Linked DNA regions of Homo sapiens. The protein of the gene in region 2 interacts with the protein of the main gene of each other region in a pairwise test. Each region holds a gene or a part of one and is shown on either strand. Other genes may lie near its edges.

What was found. Proteins that work in one complex are often made in the same cells at the same time.
Region 1: the proteins of VPS54 (region 2) and HIP1 interact in binary tests that used the Homo sapiens proteins (3 or more experiments, as listed by UniProt).

What each region holds. Positions count from the first base shown.
Region 1 is NC_000007.14:75,731,658-75,736,842, forward strand, and holds part of HIP1 (huntingtin-interacting protein 1), read right to left. Parts: intron 1-5,185. UniProt on the Homo sapiens protein: Plays a role in clathrin-mediated endocytosis and trafficking. Involved in regulating AMPA receptor trafficking in the central nervous system in an NMDA-dependent manner. Regulates presynaptic nerve terminal activity.
Region 2 is NC_000002.12:63,910,306-63,915,490, forward strand, and holds part of VPS54 (vacuolar protein sorting-associated protein 54), read right to left. Parts: intron 3,983-5,185; coding exon 3,877-3,982; intron 3,621-3,876; exon of another isoform or gene 3,520-3,620; intron 3,006-3,519; coding exon 2,918-3,005; intron 2,357-2,917; coding exon 2,235-2,356; intron 2,121-2,234; coding exon 2,040-2,120; intron 1-2,039. UniProt on the Homo sapiens protein: Acts as a component of the GARP complex that is involved in retrograde transport from early and late endosomes to the trans-Golgi network (TGN).

The DNA.
Region 1 (5,185 bases), on a different chromosome or scaffold from region 2:
ACACAGCCTGGCTCTGAGCATTTGCATTCCTAAAGAACAAACCTGACACAGATGCTTCTTACCTGCAGGAAGCAGGCTTAGGGCCATCTTGGTTTTCTGAGTATAACCAGAACCAACTGAGCCACCCAAAGTCCGTGGGGTGCCAGGGGTGTGGGAACCCATCAGGACCCACGGTCACCATCTTGATTGCACATGAGAACCACCTGGGACTTTACAAAATGTCAATGATCACCCCATACCAATGAGACAGAATCCTTATGCAGGGGGCCCAGAGAAACAGTATTTTATTTTTTCAAAGAGCTCTCCAGCCAGGGTTGAGAACCGCAGATCCTTCTAGCCCAGCCCTAAAATTTTTTAGCTGCTGAACTAAGGCTGAGCATCTGCTTAAGATCATGAGCAAGAGGGCAGAAGTACCCGCAACGTAAACATGAAAAAAAGGACTTTGCCATTTGGTTGTGAAGTCCTGGCTTCTCGGTTCACTCGCTGTGTGACCTTGGACAAGTCACTTAGCCTCTCTGAGCCTGAGCTATTAAAATGAAATCATAGATATAAATCACCCAGCATGTTCCTGGTACCCAGCAGGCCCTCAATAAATATTTGTTTCTATCTCTTTCTCTCTAGGATCTAAGGCTCTTCTCAACGCAGGATGCATTAAGATCCTTTGCTCTGACGTATGCGCTATCCACCGACTTTTTTTGTTTGTTTCTGGCTTTTTTTGTGTTGTTTTTCCTTTTACAGGGTCTGGCTCTGTCACCCAGTCTGGAGTGCAGTGGTGTGATCACGGCTCACTGCCGCCTCAACTTCCTGGGCTTAAACAATCGTCCTGTCTCTGCCTGCCGAGTAGCTGGGACTACAGGCAGCACCACCATGCCCAGCTAATTATTTGATTTGATTTGATTTTTTTGTAGAGACAGGGTCTCGCTATGTTGCCCAGGCTGGTCTCGAACTCCTGGGCTCAAGCCATCCTCCCGCCTCAGCCTCCCAAAATGCTGGGATGATAAACATGAGCCACTGCGCCCGGCTCACCCAAAGAGATTTTGACTCTCTAAAGGTTTGTTCCCCACTCTGTGTCTTTTCCTCTAATCCCAGAACTCACCTACTACAGAGCACTGTTGCTCAAACATCAGCGTACACAGAGTACCCAGGGCTGTGGTGAACACGACAAGTCCTGATTCAGTAGTTCTGGGTGGTGCCCAACATCCTAATGGCCCTGGTGATGCTGGTGTTTCGGGGCCTGACCACATCAGAGCCCCAAGGCTTGTCCAGGAGCCCCGCAGTGGCCAGTCTGCCTCCCTGCTGACTCACGAGCCCCCCAGAGCCGGTCTCTTTATCTTACTCATCTCTGTGTCTCCTCCACGGTATGTGCTCACTAAACGGATGTTGAAGAAATAAACAAACCATGGAGAAAACCATTTTCCAGCTAAGTAAAAACAGACTATTTTATTTGTCCTGTGATTGACAGCCCTCCTGGCTGATTCCAGAATTGCCCTCTTGGCTGGTGGGAGGACAGTGTGGTCGAACGGGCCTGACACTTGGAACCTGGAGTCCTGGTTTTGAATCCTGGCCCTTCCACTCACCCGTGGGATGACCCTGGGCACGTTACCAAGCTCTTTGAGTCACGATGTCCTCATCCATAAAATGAAAATGATAATGACTGACCACCGTGTGGTCCCAATGATGGCTAGAAACATGCTTTATAAACTGTAAAGTACTCCTGATAAGGTCTCCTTATTACGGCTGGGTTTTCTTTTCTTTTCCTTTCTTTTCTTTTTCTTTTTTTTTTTTTTTTGAGGGCAGGCAGTACTTTTCACTTCCCTAAAGCTTGAAAGTGGCTTGTGATGGATTGGGTGGGGAACACACCAAGGGTCTGGTTGGAGATGGGTGCAGTGGCTGGGCCATGAGGCAGGTCAGTGGTGCCTCCTCTGGCAGTGACAGTGGCCAGGTGAAATGTGAGGATGGTGCAGGAGAGTTGAGGAGGCAAGGCTTCCTGGAGGAGGCTGGCAGGAGTAGGTATGCAAGGCTGGTCTGAGGGTATAGACGCCAGGACAGAAGAAGGCAGGCAGAGCAGTGAGAGTCTTTTGATGGGCATGTGGCCAGGCTCTAGACTGGGTATGCGGGAGGCAAGGCTAGACCAACAGCGACCCTGGAGCATTATAAGAAAACAAGTAATTATAGGCCGGGCACGGCGGCTCACACCTGTAATCCCAACACTTTGGGAAGCCAAGGCGGGAGGACTGCTTGAGCCCAGGAGTTCAAGACCAGCCTGGGCAACACAGCAAGACCCCATCTCTACAAAAAAAATTCTAGGCCAGGAACGATGGCTTATACCTGTAATCCCAGCACTTTGGGAGGCTGAGGCAGGCGGCTCACCTGAGGTCAGGAGTTCGAGGCCAGCCTGGTCAACAAGTGAGACCCTGTCTCTACTAAAAATACAAAAAATTAGCCGGGCGTGGTGGCGCTCGCCTGTAATCCCAGCTACTCGAGAGGCCGAGGCAGGAGAATCACTTGAACCCAGGAGGCGAAGGTTGTAGTGAACCGAGATGGCGCCACTGCACTCCAGCCTGAGCAACAGAGTGAGACTCTGTCTCAAATAAATAAATAAATAAATAAATAAATAAATAAATAAATAAATTTTAAAGATCAGCTAAGCATGGTGGCATGCTCCTGTAGTCCCAGCACTCAGGAGGCTAAGGCAGGAGGATCACTTGAGCCCAGGAGTCCCAGGCAAAACTGAGCTATGATGGTGCCACTGCACTCCAGACTGGACAATAGAGCGAGACCATCTCTTACATAAAAATAAATAAAGTAATTATTAATATATCCTGTGGCCCAGGGCTGAACTACCCACCTAGGCCCAGGGTTCCCTTGCTGACCCCATTCACCACTAACCATGAGCTTCAGGATGCAGGCAAGAGCAAGACACAGACCTGCCCTCAATAAGCTCAGTGTTCAATGGGGGCCACAGAGAGAAATGATGCCAGCACAAGGTCACAGGAACTAGGAGAGGTCACCAGCCCTGCTATAGTTCAGAGGAGGGAGTGGCCAATTTTGCCTCTCTGTCTACCCCAGCCAATGAGTCTCCACTGCACCCGCTGGGAAGTTTATCTGCCTAGTCTAGATGTCTCTTTATTTATGTTCTTCTGTCACTGGAATGCCCCATCCCCTCCTCCACCCAGCAAGCACTAACTCATGCTACAAGATGTGCTTCAGTCCTCGGGGAGGGCTCCCAACCCCAAAGCCTGTGCTTTATCCACGTGCTCTTGGTAATTATCCCATTACCTAGTACCACATCTATCCCTCTAAGGAAGAGTTAATCACAGCCTGCTTGATTGCTCACACTTCTGCTGTCTCGGGTTCGTCTCCCCAGTCAGATTATAACAATAATCACTGAACTAGTGCTCCACAGTTTACAAAATGCCTTCAGGCATATTGGGCTTAATTGAATCCCCACAATAAATCAGCCAGGTAAGTATTATGTTTATTTGACAATAAGGAAACCGAGGCTTAGAAAGGTTAGACAACTTCCCAGAGACCACAAGGCCCATGTACATGCCCAGCTGTAAGCCTCAAATGCCTTCTAACTCCAATGCCAGCATCTGCTCAGTACTCAGAGGCTGCCTGAGGCAGTGGGTAAAGGTTGAGACCGTTTCCAGCTGTGTGACTTCTGGTGAGTTACTTAACCTCTCTGTGCCTCAATCGTCCTGAGAGTAAAATGTGGCTGATACCCACCTCATCCGTTCTTGTCAAGATTTAAAAAGGTAATACAATGATGTCCTTAGAATACTGCCAAACACAATAATTAGTTAGTTATTATTATACCTTGGCTGATTCTCATGGTCTCCTAACTCATTAAATTTTTTCTAATTCATTTTTTATATCTCATAATACATTCTTCCCCTTTTTTCCCTTTGCTTACCAAGCTCTGCAACCTCATAATACATTTGATAGGTAGTCATTAAACAAAATAATTTTTTTGCAGATTGACTAACGTTGGGTTTAGGGCTGTTCTCTTTTCTTTTCTTTTCTTTTTCTTTTTCTTTTTTTTTTATTTGAGATGGGGTCTCACTCTGTTGCCCAGGCCGGAATGCAGTGGCACAATCTTTGCTCACTGCAACCTCTGCCTCCCGGGCTCAAGCAATCCTCCCACCTCAACCTCCAAAGTTACTGGGACAACAGGCACGTGATACCACAACCAGCTAATTTTATTTTTTGTAGAGATGGGGTCTTACTATGTTGTCCAGGCTGGTTCTTTTTCTTTACTCTCCTACACCCCTAAAGAGTTTCAACACCAGAGGCTGGGTGCAGTGGCTCACACCTGAAATCCCAGCACTTTGGGAGGCTGAGGTGGGAAGATCGCTTGAGGCTAGTTCAAGACCAGCCTGGGAAAACACAGTGAGACCTCCGTCTTAAAAAAAAAAAAAGTTAAAAATAAGAGTTTCAACATCAGAAAAATTCTCTTTTTCTGCTCCACTCTACTTCACCCCCACCCACCCCACCCAGGTCAAATCTGGCCAATCACAAATGTCCCACAGAATGTAAAACACCAGAAAACACTGACCTAGACTCTCCTGTTGGGCCGTCCCTGGATAGCAGGGAAACATACCACTCACGGGTGGAAACTTTCACAAACCTAATTTCTATCACTATTATGGGTCAAAGTCTTACGCATATTTCTCTATTGCTCTAGTTTTTACTTATTTGAGACTCTAGAAGGAACGGGTTGTTAAAAAATAATATCTATTTATTTTCTTATTTCATTTATTAAAAAAAAAAATAGGGCTGGGTGCCATGGCTCATGCCTGTAGTCCCAGCACTTTGGGAGGCAGAAGCAGAAGAATCACTTGACGCCAGGAGTTTGAGACCAGTCCGGGCAACACAGTGAGACCCCCATCTCTATGAAAATATAAAAATAAAAGGAATATACACACTGTTTCATGGAGCAAGAAGCCTCATGTAACTAGGCAGCTAGCAGAGGCACTAACATCCAAGACCAATGGAAAACTTCCTTCTTTTCAGGGGTCGGGTCCATGAAACCAGAGAACAAGCCTCAAACCTAGCTGGATCCTGGGAGGCAGAAGTGAAATGACCATTTCCCACTTCCCTCCTGGGGTAGGATAACCAGGTAGAGAAGACTCCCTGCTTCACACCATCCAGACACACCTGCATGGAGGCACTTTCTTTTTTT
Region 2 (5,185 bases):
CATTATGTTATAAAAGCCTGGCCATATTCTTCAACGGGTCAATGATATATATTTTTTTAAATGAGGAGGGGCGTGTTCTAGTTTATAAGACTTAAGAGACGTAATAACCAAATGCAATCTGTGAACCGTGTAGAAGCCTTTGTCCAAACAAATTATTATAAAAAGACATTTTTGGGACAATTAATAAGTTTCAAATAGGAGAATAAATATTAGATGATTTTGAGGAATTATCAATTTTGTTAGGTGTGATAATAGTGTGGTTATGTAAAAATGTTCTTAGTTTTTAAAAATGCATACTTAGGTATTTAGGGATAAAATACCATAATGCCTCAAATTTATTATAAAATATTTTAGCAAAAAAGGCAAATTGTTAATAACGAATATAGGTCATGCATACATGGGAAGTTAATTAAACAATTCTCTTTTTTCTTTACAGAAAAAAAAAGTAAGTTGTCATAGGAAAAAGTCTAGTCACTGTGACAATTCTTATTCAAAAACTCTGTGGATGACCAAAGTGACAGACTAAAGTCAGAGTTTTAAGAGTACTAGCACATCTTTGGTTTTTCTTCATTGTATTCCACAGCCTATTAATTGTTCCACTATTTTTGTTTGTTTGTTTTAGAGACCGGGTCTTGCTCTGTCACCTAGACTGGAGTGCAGTGGGGTGATCACAGCTCACTGCAGGCTGGAACTCCTGGACTCAAGCATAGTTCCACTATTCCCAGCCTAGTTCCACTATTTAACATATATTCTATTCTCCACTGTTAGCTGTTTACAGTCTTCTAACCTTGTTAGATGGTAAGCTTCTTGAGAGCAGACACAATATGTTACCGACTTTTGGTACACAGAAGAATGCTGTATATCAAAAAGGAAACTGGTAGAATAGAATTGCTTTTGAATGTAGCTTGTACTTGGCACCAGTGAAGAAAATAAAGCATCTCTAAACAGTAATTTTTCTCCCTTCACAACTAGAAACTAATTTAAATAGGCATAACATAGTATAGGTATGTTTGTACATAAATACAAATTCCTTAAGCTTCTTAAAAGTGAAGCATAAAACACCTGTATTACCAACTACACCAGAGGTGTAGTGTAGTCTGGGGATTCCCAGAAGTCAGAGACCCTTTCCAGGAATCTGGGAAGTAAAAGCCGCTTTCATAATAATATTATTAATAAGATGCTATTTATCTATTTTACTCTCATTCTCTCATGATTGAACAGTGGGGATTTTTAGATGACTTGTGATATCATTATTCTGAAGGCTAATAGAATATGTGTTTGGGTAGTCTTGTGTGTGAGTGAATGGACACCACTTTATCTTGCCCTTTTGATTCTTATGTACCTGCTGTTCCTGCCATTTCGGAATCTGAAGGATGCAAGTAGGATAAAAAGCAAATCAAAGTTCTTTGCTATTAAGGTTATTCCAAATATGATCTTGGACAGACAGTATACACTGAGTAAACTTTCAGACTTTCAAGTTACGAAATTTTGGCTTTCCCACTAAGACGTGAATTGAAAAACTTAGGGAAAGTAAACAGTGAAAGATAGATCAAGCGTGATTGGGGCTGACTAAATGATATTTTTCTGAAGATACTCTCCCAGTATAACTGCGAATTCTTTGGGGAACACTGCTTCATTTAATGACATATTGGGAATGAAAAACAAACAAGAAATGAATGTTGAAATGAATTAACATAAAAATACTTCTGCATAGGATTTCTACCATCCTTAGAATCATCTCTCCTACTCCTGCCAGCCCCTTAGAATATCAACTGTTTTGGAAATCCGAAAATTTTGTTGAGTTGTTTTCTAAACCCTGAATAATTTGTTAGATAACTGCAGGTTAGACCACTATGGGGGGTCTTGGTCACAGCACATGGTCACATTTTCCTGAAAAAAAATTTAAAATTCTACTAATTGGTAAATATCCTATGAAAGTTTAGATTATCTTTTCACATCTTAATTTATAAAGTACTCCTTATAAAATAGAAAATCATAATGTCTTTGAACAAAGTCTAATAATTTCTATAAATCATTACCTTAGATAACAGCTTGTCAAATAAGCTATCCATTATCGCTACAAGCTTAGCTGATATTTCAGCTATGTGATCATGGTAGTCCTGCAATGAGAAATGATAATTGTATTTTTAAGTCCCTGGGACACATTTTTAAAATACTTAACAATTAAGGATCTAAACTTATGAAACGCCAATAGAAAATATATGAAAAAGTACCTTAGTGATATGATCAAAATGCCTAAGCATGCTATATTGCTTAGGTGGTAGTCGAGCTTCAAAATGAGCCCGGATCACAGGAATGTAGTGCACAATTAACTGCAAACATCGTGAAGAAAGAGCTGAAGATCCAGGGAGTAGATATATAATGGAGAAATAAAAAAAAAAAAGGTATTAGTTGATTTTAATTACAAATCAAATCAAATAAAAAACATCACTTATAAAGAACCAGTTTATTTCATAAACGAAGAGCCCTATGGCAGAAGGCAACATATTTCATTTTGTCTAATAATTTGATACTGAATAATGTAATGAACATGCTGCTTTCACAAAGGACTCAAGTTGTGAGTATTATCAGTATCACAATAACAAGACAACTGATTCTCTTATGACATTCAGATAGCTTTCACCCCCAAATACTTTATACACATTATATCTTAATATTTTCTAGAGTGGTGTAACTTCCAAGTAACTTATACTTGGAGGGGAAATGCATCGTAACCTTTTCCCCATGGTTAGTTTTTTTCAGTGATGAGTATACATAAAAGAGTAAGTAGCATTTATTTTTAGAGTAATGCCACTTTGGTTAGAGCCATGAAAACATGAGGTATAAAAAAACATGATGAGAACAGTGACATCACTGTTAACACTTCAGCAAGTGAATTAAACGCAAGAATCCATACCCAAATTTTTTGTAGTTATCGTTTTTAGTCCAACAACTTGCAGTGCACCAGCTCCAAGAACTAACTGGCAACTTCTTGAATTGAAGTACTAACAAAAGAAGGAGAAAAAAACCCCAAAATTTACTAAAAACTGTTCTTTATATCCTGGCAATGTGCTATTATAAAAATACATTCCCCTTTCCTCTCATTCAATGGCCAAATGAATTATCTAGTAGAAGCAATTAGTATCTATTTATTTAATGAAAAAGAAATGAGAAGGGGAGATTCTAAATGATAATATTTACTGATAAGAAAAAAGTTGAAAAATTCTAAAAATCAGTTCGCAGAAATTAATCTTTAATTTGCATGTACAAAACAAATTCGGTTTCAGTCATTCTTGTTGGGAAGTCCTATTTTCAAAAGTTATAAAAATCTGTCTTGGCTAAAACATGACAACTCAAGTCAGAACATAATTAACAGATTAGAGGTTTGAAAAAAATAATAAAGCATTTCCTCCGTACTGGTAGTTTAAAATATCTCAATATGAAATGGCTGAATAAAATCATCACATTTTCATTTTATATCAATGGTTCTGAAAGAATGATGCAAGAAAAATCTCTAACCTTAGTGAGATGAATTTTGTAAAGTTCAGTGAATTCCTTCCATGCACATTTGAAGCCAGTCCAGGTTTTTTGACCTAAGTGGCCTCAGTCATGTTCAGCACCTAACGAACAAATCATCTCCTGTCTCCAATGTCATTAACAACTCTATGGGTGAATGAGGATCACTAACTGTGGAGTAAGAAGGAAGCAGGCAGCCTGTTTCCAATAACATGTTGTGATTCAACCACAATCAAATGTTATAAAACTAATGTCTTAAAGTTAATTTGACCTTGAAATGTCTTTGAGTTAAGATTAGTCACACCCTAATGTATTAATTCCTCGAAAAATTTTTCCATAATGGAGTGAAGTCATACATACCTTCAATAAATCTGACAGACGAGTAAGCATGTCAGTAGTAACAGATGGGATGTTATCCACACACTGGCAATATTCAAGGATAATTCTTATTAACAGCAATACGGTTCTACAAGAAAAGAAAAATGGCCCAATAGGAAATCAAAACAAGAAAAATCAAAAGGATTTGGCATATAAAAATCAAATTACTTAATGGCACAAAGGATCTCTGAGAATATAATGACCTTGGTAACTATGTTAAAGTATGCATTTTACCTACTAGTACAGCAGGTTCTTGACTAACACAAGACAAGAGAGGTGTCTAGAATGCAAAATTTAAAGAGGCTCTTACTCTGTGCAATTGCAGGATCAGCTTGCACAACACTGAGAATGAGTGGCTCCTTAAATTCTGTACAACAGGCATAATACTCTCTGTATGGCATTCTTATTAAGTAAGGGAGTCGCTTCAGTAAGACAGGTATTGCATTCATTAGCCAATTCAGAAACACTGACAAAAAGCCTATCCAGTGTTTCTGATTACCAACATAGTAGGTCCTCCATCATAACTAATGAATTGATGAAGAAAACCTAGTCCAGATTTTCTTAGTGAGATGGAAAAAAAAAAAATCTATAATGGCTTCTAAGGAAAACATGTCTCCTAAGAATTTTATTGGTAGGTCACAAAAGGTTCTCTGGCTGGGCGCGGTGGCTCACACCTGTAATCCCAGCACTTTGGGAGGTCAAGGCAGGCAGATCACTGGAGGTCGGGAGTTCGAGACCAGCCTGACAATGGAGAAGACCAGCCTGACAGTGGAGAAACCCTGTCTCTATTAAAAATTCAAAATTAGCTGGGCGTGGTGCTGCACATCTGTAATCCCAGCTACTGGGGAGGCTGAGGCAGGAGAATCGTTTGAACCTGGGAGCCGGAGGTTGTGGTGAGCTGAGATCATGCCATGGCACTCCAGCCTGGGCAACAAGAGCAAAGCTCCGTCTCAAAAAAAAAAAAAAAAAAAAAAAAAAAGTTTTCCGAAGATGATAAAGTTATCACCTCCATAGAAGGACAAATCACACGTTAAAAAGACACACTACTGGGAAGTTAAAGAAGATTGAAATTAAGGAGAAAGCCATTCATCATAGGATATCTAAGTTCAATGACATGCTCAGAAATAAGATCTACGTAAAATAAGGATTTATAAGAGCCTGAAAGATATCAGGAACTAATGATTCAAGAAAGATGGTGTCTAGCCTTTATAACACCTTGTCAGACCATATATGCATACTGGTCTCTATGCTTATTTCTCCTAGAGTCTGCCTAAATGAGCATGAGTCCATT